Linked DNA regions of Homo sapiens: region 2 is linked to region 1. The links come from fine-mapping of genetic effects on gene expression. A gene starts in region 1. The other region holds a variant in brackets. All regions are shown on one strand. Distances are between the middles of the regions. Region 1 holds the start of NEBL (nebulette). Region 2 has its middle 40 kb from the start of NEBL-AS1.

The links. PIP is the estimated chance that this variant, and not a neighbour inherited with it, causes the effect.
Region 2: its variant is fine-mapped to the expression of NEBL in neutrophils (CEDAR, PIP 0.95). The same link has a PIP of 0.9 or more in monocytes.

The regions. Positions count from the first base shown.
Region 1 is chr10:20,895,041-20,900,437 of GRCh38, reverse strand. NEBL (nebulette) reads left to right here and starts at 3,127. Exons shown (of 28, transcript NM_006393.3): 1 at 3,127-3,313; 2 at 3,409-3,480. The coding sequence starts at 3,233.
Region 2 is chr10:21,211,687-21,217,083 of GRCh38, reverse strand. It overlaps a transcript of NEBL not described here. Among named protein-coding and RNA genes, the nearest start is that of NEBL-AS1, 40 kb to the right of the region's middle. The variant T/C (reference allele first, on the strand shown) is at 2,601.

The DNA of each region.
Region 1 (5,397 bases):
AAAGTGCTGGGATTACAGGCGTGTGCCACTGCGCACCCAGCCAGTGCTTTCTTTTTATTAACTTCTGTCAACTCAGTTTTTCTGTTTAACTATGAAGAATTAGAGGTAGTGAGGGGTTGAATAATTTGCCCTAGAGGACATGGCAGAGCCAGACCTGGACTTTGAGAGTTTAGCCATAAGTGATGTCTCTTGGTCTCATTCTGTATCAAGGCATGCGTAGAGTACTAAAGTAGAAAAGTAAACAACATAAAAGAAGTGCCCAATAAGTAAAAGCTATGAGCAGCTACAGAGATTTTGCCTTTTGGAGCAACCCAAGGTGAAAATATCTATTAAAATACATTAAGCTTGGTTTTTGGAAAAGTCGATAGGGGATTTTGAAACATGATAGCTGTCCATGAGGAACACTTTCTTCATATTCTCCATGTCATATTTTAGAGCTACTGACAAGAAAACTTTGCTGTGATGAAGTGCAGGGCTTAACACTTTTTTAGAGAAAACTTTGCATGAATTTTATATTATAGGTGAGAGGAAAAAAGATGTATTCAATCAAAAGTAATGGTGTCTCTAGCTTGCCAAACGATCCATTAAAGACTTCATCCAGCAAGTGTTGAGTGATGAGTATTTTATTTCCAATTCTATCTTAGTATGAAGAATATTTTATTCACCATTCTATCTCTAACACCAAGCACAGTGCCTGGCATAACAACATTTATTTGTTGAACAAATGAACACAGGTCTCTAGTTAGGTTCTGATCCTAGTGCTTCATTGAATGGCTTTGTAAATGAGACACATAATTTTTCATAGCCTTCATTTTGTCATCTGTGAAAGAGAGGGCTTTAGGTGTATTGATTTCTTAAGGATCCCTTTGGCTTGAAATTCTGATTCTAGAATCTCAAATGGAAAATTTGTGTTCACATTGCACGTGGTGTTTGGTTTTTGTTTTCAAAAGTTTGTGCATTAAATCTCAACAGCTTATTTTCTTGCAGCACAGTGAAGAGTCCCTAAGAACATATTACGTGATGGGAAATGAGAAATAACTGCACTGCAAGCCTGATGAAGGTAATTCACCTTGGGGAATAGGTGTCACCCTGAGTAACACCAGTACTGTCTCCTCAAATATGAGCCAAAAGGTGTGTCTCAGGCAGTTTTGGCAAGATTTTCTCCCTACACTCCTAGAAATTTGCAAGACAAGTTTACAGAAATTACTCCTCCCTATTTCCAAATAAAGATAATGTAATAGATCTATAGAATATTAGAATAGTCTTCTGGCCAGCAGAGGACTTGAGGGAAATAATTGGAATGCACACATTCTTTCCTTTTACGGAACAAATAAAATATACAAGGAATGTCCTTGTGGAATCCACTACACTGGGCCAGCATGATATGGCTGTAATCTTAGAGTTGTGGTTTCCAAGTTCAGCATGCTTGAGGCAATTTCTTTTTGGTATTTTGTTGGTGAACAGGATATGTGATACCATTAATTTAGCCTGTATCAAAAACTAGTTCAAGACCAACAGCTCCTTCTAGAACACAACATTTTAGGAGAATAGAGCAATGTTTCCCTAAGCAGTCGGTCATATTTCACAGAGGAGTGTTAGTTTTCTGGGGTAGTGGGTATGATTAAAAAAAAGATAGGTAGATAGGTAGGTAGGTAGATTAGATTAAATTGGATTAGATTTGATGAGATAAACAGGTTTGTGTTCAGGGGAACACGAGGTTAAGCAAGCCTAAGCAGGTTTTTTGGTTGAAGGTCTTCTCAGAACTTCTAGTATGTCAATATGCCTTGTAGATCTCTAAGTGGCAGGGACAGAGACTGGGGTACAGATTTCCCAAACATATTTGTTTAAGAAACCTGCTTTTTTCCCCCAGAATCTTTTGTGGAACTTTTGCCTCATGGAACACAATTTCAGAAATAATTTATACGTGATGACTGTGTAGAATGTTTTTCTTGTCAGGATTTTCAGTTTAGGTAAGGCCAAGGCATTTTTTTTTTACAGTACATTGAAAACTAGATATGATATCAAGAGAAAAAATTATGCTTGGCTACTTAGAATGACATACTATTTTTAATAAATTTGTATTTTGTATCATCAGTATTACTATTCAGTGTAGGGTATTTTTTATGCCCAATGCTAATGTGCTATGACTTGGTAAAATTAATTTACCCTAGGATTTACATAACCAGATTAATAAATTGTGAGTTGTAGGGAGTCTTGGAATTGCCTGAATTGACATTAAAATATTTGTTTTGAGAAATTTTTTTTTAACCTTGGTTTTACGTAACCAAGGACATACACTACATTATAAATATTGTGATGGTTTATTTTTCCAAACTTTTCTGAATGTGGGGTGCCCATTGAGTAATAATGCAAATCACCAATGACTTTGTAAAAATTGACATGATGAGTAGAACTGCAGAATTCAAAGATGATGATGATGATTTTTGAAACGATGTTTCCAGAATTGTTAAATTATGTATCAACATATGTTAACTGCAACTTCTCATGTTTAATGATGTTTACAATTAATACAATACCATACTCGCCAGTATAATACTAACAGTCATAATTAACTCAGAATAGATTCTTTGAAGTGGTTCAAAGGGCTTTTCATAATAAATAAGTAGCCTCTAATCAGCTAATATAAAGTGGGTATTTTTTAGGATGTGAGAAGTACTGGTATGTCTGATAAAACATATAATTTAGGTTGACAAAATGAGTTTGAATGATCCAGATTCACTACCCCAAGTCAGAAGGAAGTCTGACATTCCAGTGAAAGCTTTATTTAGACAGAGACAAGGAATCTTTGAGATAACAGGCTTTGGACTGTGCTATCTTGAGTGTTAGAGCTGAGTAGTTTTCCCAGAATCTCTAAGTCCTTTTTATGCTCTTTTATGAATGAATAGAATTAGTAAAAGATAAATAAATTTTTTCTTTTGGATTTCTTAACCAGTGGAAAAAATGTTGACTTTAAAAGTTCATAAAATCAAATTTTGCTTAAGAATATGTTATTTCCACTTGTGAGGCCAGCCTGGTAGACCTCTGGGATCCTTTTCTGTTCACTCACACACCACTGAGATAAGGAGTGAAGTGTGGGCTAAATAGGGCTGAGGCTTGGGCAAGGGCATTTCTGCCAGAGCACCAGAGACGTCAGCATCTCAAGGGCACTGTGGTATGGAAAAGGACGCCACATGAGTAAATTTTAAAAATATAAATATTTTAAAGGGTAAAAATGAGGGTCCCTGTATTTGAGGATATAAAAGATGAAACTGAAGAAGAAAAGATAGGGGAAGAAGAAAATGAAGAAGACCAGGTGAGTGAGAAAACACATACTCAGACCAGCGTTTGTTCCTCTAAATTGACAATGAGAAAAATGTTCTTTCTGTTCTTTTCTTTTTTTTCAAATAGGTCTTCTATAAGCCTGTTATTGAAGACTTAAGCATGGAATTGGCCAGAAAATGCACGGAACTCATTAGCGATGTAAGTGGCTGGAGTAATTTTTGTCTTATTTTGCATTGCACCTGTGGTATTATTATGTTATAGAGTCATAGAGCTGTGGGGGAAACCCTGAAATCACCTTTTAAAACACAGTCACTTTCCAGATCATGGAACAAAGTCCTGAAATTTTCAGTGATTTCCCCAAGGTCACCTATACAGAGAATTTCTGCTAGAGCAAGTCTCCTCATTCTTAATCCAGAATCCTGTCCCTTATGAGTTTTGCTGTCACGCTGGCATGAAATCATAAGGCATTGAATTGCAGTATTTATTCCATTTGAGAACCCCCAAAGATTTTAAAATGAATATAATGATGTAATTTGTCTTGGGAGGCCCTCTATCTAAATGAATAGTCATTTTTTTAACATTTTGGGGCCTTCTGAACAATCTAATGAATGGACTTGTCTTCCAGAACAGGAAAATGCATATATATATATATATATATATATATATATATATGCATATAATATTTATTTACAATTCAGGATTTGTTGATTACTGACCTGCTTGCTAAGAACCCTGATATTAGTGCAAGGATATTAGTGCAAGGGGTATTTTTGTTGTGACATTTTTTAGTAACTGGGATTGGTTGATATTACACTTTAAGGGAATCCCAGAATTATTGAATGATTGAACATATAATTTTATGTTAAATATGTAAGCTAGAATTCAAGAAGTACAAGGAAAAATGTTGCTCACCAGGGATGAGAATTTAGATGATCCTCATTAGCGGTTCTAAGAGGATTGCTGGTCCAGAGAAAGGGTAACTCCTGTAAAGTGAATATGTGCCTGTGTCTTCATTTAGAGAGATGAGCACAATACTGGTTGTTTCTGTTGTTGATAATAAGCAAAATGATCAGAATGTTTTGCACGTTTGTTTTCTAACGGAAGTCAGTCCTGGGCAGGAGGGTAGTGGTCTGGCACATCCTCCAAAGTCAACCTGCCTGGGTTGACTCCCCAGTAACCTTGGGAAGGTTATGGAACCTGGCTTGGCTCCATCCCTCAGCTGTAACATTTATAATAAGATTAAATAATGGTAATGCATATAAATGCTGAATAAACTATCTGGAACATTGTGAGTACTCCATAAATGTTAGCTGTTATTAACTACTCTGTCTGTTACTTCCTTTTACATCCATCCAATCACAATTTAGATATGACTGGCTCTTTCTGACAAACCAGAAGGCAAGCACAAAGGATGCTGGTGGAAATCATACCCTTTCCCATATACTTGACATGTGATGTAATTACCCTTTAAATTAAGTATTTCTTTGTGCTATTACTTAATAGTCATTAGCTATTGTATGTGAAAGTTCTCTGTAAATTGCAGTAATAATAAGTGACAATGACAACAACAACAACAATAACACTATTGGCAACAGTTAAGATTTAGTGACTATTGTGTGCCAGGGATTGCAGCTTGCGAGGTAGGCGCTAGGCTTTTTCTCATTTCTGAAGCGAGGAGATAGAGGCACAGAGAGGTTCAGTACCTTGCCTGGGTCACACAGTTAAGCAGAGGCAGTAATAGTTGAACACAGAGGCCTCCCTCTTTACACTGCCAAGTTATCTCTCCCTGTAGATTTCCATGAAATGTTGTTCTTCGCCTTATTATTATTATGTTACTATTATTAGTAGTAATGCTACCAACTAAAACCCTGAGTTCCTAACCTCTTCCAGCTTTGATATATTTTTATTGAAGTGCAATTATAGCTGAGCTAACTTGTGTTACATAAACCATCAGGACTAAAGTGGTAACTGTAGTTAGTAGGTGATTTGGTTGGAGTTGTTTTGGATAAGATTGTCTATCAGTGACTTTAAAACCAACATGTTGTGAGGGGTGGTGGCCTTTATCATTATGCAAAAGCTAAATCCATACATTTCACACCCACGTAGGTAAAATGA
Region 2 (5,397 bases), 320 kb before region 1:
CAGGTCCCCTCAGTGCAGAGCCCCTTCCCAGGGGTATTGTGTTCCTATGGTAGTAGTTTAGTAAAATTAGCAAAAGTATGATTTTTTTTTTTCTTCGAGACTGAGTCTTGCTCTGTCTCCCAGGCTGGAGTGCAGTGGCGCGATCTTGGCTCACTGCAACCTCCACCTTCTGGGTTCAAGCGATTCTCCTGCCTCAGCCTCCCAAGTAGCTGGGATTACAGGCACGTGCCACCACACCCGGCTAATTTTTGTATATTTAGTAGTGATGGGTTTTCGTGTTTCTTTTCTTTTTTCTTTTTCTTTTTTTTTTTTCGAGATGGAGTCTTGCTTTGTTGCCCAGCCTAGAGTGCAGTGGTGCGATCTCGGCTCACCACAACCTCCATCTCCTGGGTTCAAGCAATTCTTCTGCCTCAGCCTCCCAAGAAGCTGGGTCTACAGGTGTGTGCCACCATGCCCAGCTAATTTTTGTGTCTTTAGTAGAGACAGGGTTTCACTGTGTTGGCCAGGCTGGTATCGAACTCCTGACCTCATGATCCGCCTACCTTGCCCTCCCAAAGTGCTAGGATTACAGGCTTGAACCACTGCGCCTGGCCCAAGAGATGGGTTTTCATCATGTTGGCCAGGCTGGTCTTGAACTCCGGACCTCGTGATCTTCCCGCCTGGGCCTCCCAAAGTGCTGGGATTACAGGCATGAGATACTGCACCCGGCCAAAAAGTGTGATCTTTTAATTGCAGCTGGTTAGGACCACTGTGTCTTCCCCTTTTGACTTCTCCTTGTCTTAATTCTCCTTGAGTTGGGTGGCATTGAAGTAGCCACAGGCACTTGGATATGTGGCTAAGGGGAAGTCAGGTTGGGGGTGTATATTTAGTGAGAGTTTAGTGGGATGTGTTCTGGTGGTTCAGAGTCACTCTGTAGACAACTCGTGGCTGGCTTTCCCACGTAGGATGGGTTTCAGCAGTACCCTACTGCATACCGTGGCAACTTGACTGGAATTATGAATGACGGCCTAGAATCAGGGGCGGAACTGTGATGTGAACCTGTCTTAGGATACTGACCCTGCTGGGAAGTAGGAAGTGAAGGAGGAACAAGTAGAGCTGGAAACTAGTTTGGGAGGGCAGGTGCGGTGGCTCACGCCTATAATTCCAGCACTTTGGGAGGCTGAGACAGGAAGATCACTTGAGCCCAGGAGTTTAAGACCAGCCTGAGCAACATGGCAAGACCCTGTCTCTATAAATAACCAAATCAAAAACAAAAACTGGTCAAGCATGGTGGCACATGCCTATGGTCCCATTTACTCAAGAGGCTGAGGTGGAAGGATCAACTGAGCCTGGGAGGTTGAGGCTGCAGTGAGCTGTGATTGTGCTACTGCGTTCCAGACTGGATGACAGAGTAAGACCCTGTCTCAAAAACAAAAACAAAACAAAACAAAACAAAAAAAACTAGTCTGTGGAAAATATTATGGTAGTGGGTCAGCCAGTTAATAAACAGATTATATTTTTTTCTTTGCCTTTTGTGGCACTTGCAGTATTTGTTAGTTTTAAAAGATATGTTATTTGTTGTGAAATCTTTTCTCATTCTGAATATTTACTTTTGTGCTACATTTTGCATTCATGAGTTTGTATTGTTTTGCTTAATTTGCTCCCTGAATACAGATGCTACAGAGAATCCTCCCAAATGTGAGTTTTATGAGCACCATGAAATGCCCATAATAAGACAGCCCATTGCAAACACATATTCTTCATTTGTGCAGATCTTTTAAAAACTCTTTTTAAAAGAGATAGGCTCTTGCCCTGTCACCTAGGCTGAAGTACAGTGGCGTGATCATAGCTCACTGCAGCCTCAAACTCCTGGCCTCAAGAAATCCTCCTGCCCTACCTCCTGAGTAGCTGGGACTGCAGGTGCGTGCCACCACATGCCACTAATTTGTGCAAATCTAACCAAATTGTATGTTAGGTAAGAAGACAGAAACTAAAAGTTCATTTTAGTTATTTCGCTCTAATCTTCAAGTTTTGTGGATTTAAAACTCTGGCCAAGTGGAAGTTGACATCTCTTCATGGGGTCGGAGGGATCAGGGTGGGGTGAGGCAGGTGGCACAGGGAGGGCTTCACAGTTTATTGCTCCTCCCCGGCAGGGAAAAGGGAGCTAGATTCCAGGAGATGGGGGCAGAGAGACACAGCAGGGCCTGTCCTTTAATTTATTTCCTATTCTTTTCTAAAAGAACACAGGATATTCTCTTTAAAGACACTAATATTAGGAGTGTAGCCAAAAATACTGACAATGATTAATTCTGGGAGCTTCAATTAAAAGTGATTTCCATTTTTTCCCTTTTTACATACTATATATTTTCTGACTTTTCTGTAAATACCATGAATTAGCAGTTAAAAAAGAAGCACCTGAAAAACCCTTTCCTCACTGTACCCAACAATCTTGCATGTGTGCATGTGTGTGTAATGTGCATATGTGTGCATGTGTGTGCATGTGTATATGTGTGTGTAATGTGCATGTGTGCGTGTGTGTAATGTGTGCACATGTGTGTGCATGTGTGTATGTGTGTGTAATGTGCATGTGTGCATGTGTGTGCATGTGTGTAATGTGCGCG[T/C]GTGTGTGCATGTGTGTGCCATGTGTGTGCCATGTGTGTATGGGGTAGTTATACTGAGGAGATCCTTTTCCTTTCTTCTCTTCTTGTTTCTTTCCTTCCTCCCTCTCTTCCTTTTTCCCTTAGCACAAATGCATAAAGGCTTACTAGTGTCTTAATAAATCTTCAGAAAGTACAAAGAATGCTTTATTTGATACCACTAAAAATAAGTGCAAGATACAAATTTTTAATTTGAAAAAACATAAGATAGAAAGCACTTTTCTTTGCCTTTTGTGTGTGTGCATGATATACATATATGATATATATACATCTATATCATATACTTATACATATATATTATATACATATATATACATGAAATTCATGAGTAAATTACCAATTCATTGTTGAGAATTGAAGAAGACTAAGACAGAAGTTAAGATTTAATTATCTGTCTGTATTATCATCATTCAAGACACAAAACTGCTGAGTTTTATAATTGTGGGGAAAATCTATTGTCTGTGACAACTCCCTTTACCAGCCGATACTTACATAAAAGTCCAGGAGACACAGTTTATTGCTTTTAAGGAAGACCTTGTCCTTTCCCTCGCAAATGATGTGTGGTGTCTCGAGCTTGTTGGACTTCCTCTGGGCACAGAACATGGAAGATGAGCAGGTATATAATGTGTAGATATTCGTTGGTCCTTTTAAGAGAGGAATATTTGCAGTAAAAATAGAATAATTTATTTAAGATATAAACTCCACTTACATTATAGCTAAAGGCTGCTATAGAACCCATTTCTAAGGTTTTTCTCTATTTACTCTACTCCTCAAGCCCAGGTCGCCCCAGGCCTTCTCCTGCCCTGGTTCCCTGCCTCGGGACATTCTCATTGCTAAGTCCTGAGAGCATCTTCATGAATGCCTCATTAACACTTCCTGGCTATTCATTAGCAAAGTTAGTGTCTTCTCCTGGTTACTTAAAAATCTCTTGGTCAGCCCTGTAACTTGCACACAAGGAGGCATTCAGACAGTGTTGTTTTGAAAGTGCATTTTATAGACACTGTTCTTTAGACTGAAGCTTCCCCCGTCCTCCGCTCCTCTCCGGTTTTCCTCCGCCTGCACTCAACCAGCTCTACATCTCCATCTGTTTTGAATCTTCTCTAATGTCCTTTCTCTGGGCACAGGAACCCAGACACTCTACATTCTGATTTTTTAAAGGGAGTCAAATCAGTCTGCAACAAGACCAAATACAAGTTCAAGGAAACTGAACCATCAACTGAAATTTGCCTGTCAAGCTTATCTTTTTCTGCATTCTTTGAGTATTAGTGAGTAAACAGAAATGGCATAATAAACTATCATTTCAATCCAACTTTGGGCAACCATCAGCTTGAAGGGCTTGGGTTATTGTGAGATAAAGTGAGATGAGACATGGCTAAATTCCAACCGGTGCCTGGCACATGGTGAGCACTCCGATATTAATTCATTGCCTTCGTTTTGTCACGGTGGTCTGGTTACATTTGTAGCTGCTACCGTGTAGCTCTGCACCATGAAGAATCACTAAGAACTTAATGAGCTGTATTTTCTCCAAAGCCATAGGCTTTGTCAACACAATGCTAAACATTGTGACAATTTTTGACTGAATCGAGTTAACTGACTGAATGTTTTGAAGTATTGACACAGCAGCTAAAGGAGTGAGAACGGTAGTCAAGCCAGCTATTTCCTATGATGAAAAGTGGCAAGTATTTCAAAAATAAAACTAGTGTCGAAACACGAGAAGCCAGTGGAAGTCGCAAGTGGCCACAGGGCCTTTGGAAAGCACTCACTGAAGGACCTGGCTCAGGAGCCAGGTGTGGTAACAAAAATCTGAAGATGTCCCTGGTCATCCAACAAGCTAAGCAAAGCTGAAGAACCGGGTGATTCCACCCCTTTCACCGAAGCTTCTGTAATTTACTTCCTTAACAGAAAATGGGAAGTTTCACAAACTCTTGAGAAATGACGAGTGTTGGTTTATTCCTTCCATCTTTTCAGCCGTTGCTTGCCTTTCCTTCTTTCCTCCCATCACTCTGAGGAGGGGTAGGCGCTGTCCAGACGTTAGCGCTGGGTGTTCGAAATCTTTGCAAGGAAAGTTGGGGCCAGGATTGCACTAATTGGGAAATCTTTGTTTGTCAGTTTAATTTTCAGTGAATTTCCTGAAAGATTAAAAAGATTGTGTTGTACATTACAGATATATATACATTTACAAGTTGTTATATATGTATATTATATGTAACATAATAAATCATATATTTGTATTATCTTTCTGACATATTATACATATATTGTACACAGTATTATATGTAGTATATATAGTGTTGTCACTCAGATGTAGCGATAATACTGTATATATACTGTATCTAACATAGTATATATTATATGTATACTGTGTAATAGTTGTATAATATGTAATAATAATATATGCATAACATTTACATATGTACATATGTTTATAGATATATATATCTGAAGAGAGAGAGAGAATTGAGTGATTTAAAACCCTGAAATGTATTTACTAGCATTACATAAGAGCAAACACACTTGATAGTAACTTGGTAGGTCATTTATGAAAGATTTCTGACCTCAGCATGAGTGAGAAATTCTGTGCTTCTCCAATTACCATTGGAGAATGAATGAAGCCATGACGACAGATCCGTTTCCATCATCACAATCACTGCTGGTTTGAGGATCCTTCCCCAACAAAAGGATCTCCCTTGGCAATGGCCAACTTCATTGACACAACAAACATTTGTCACAACAAAATTTTACCTTTACAAAAGGACTCAGA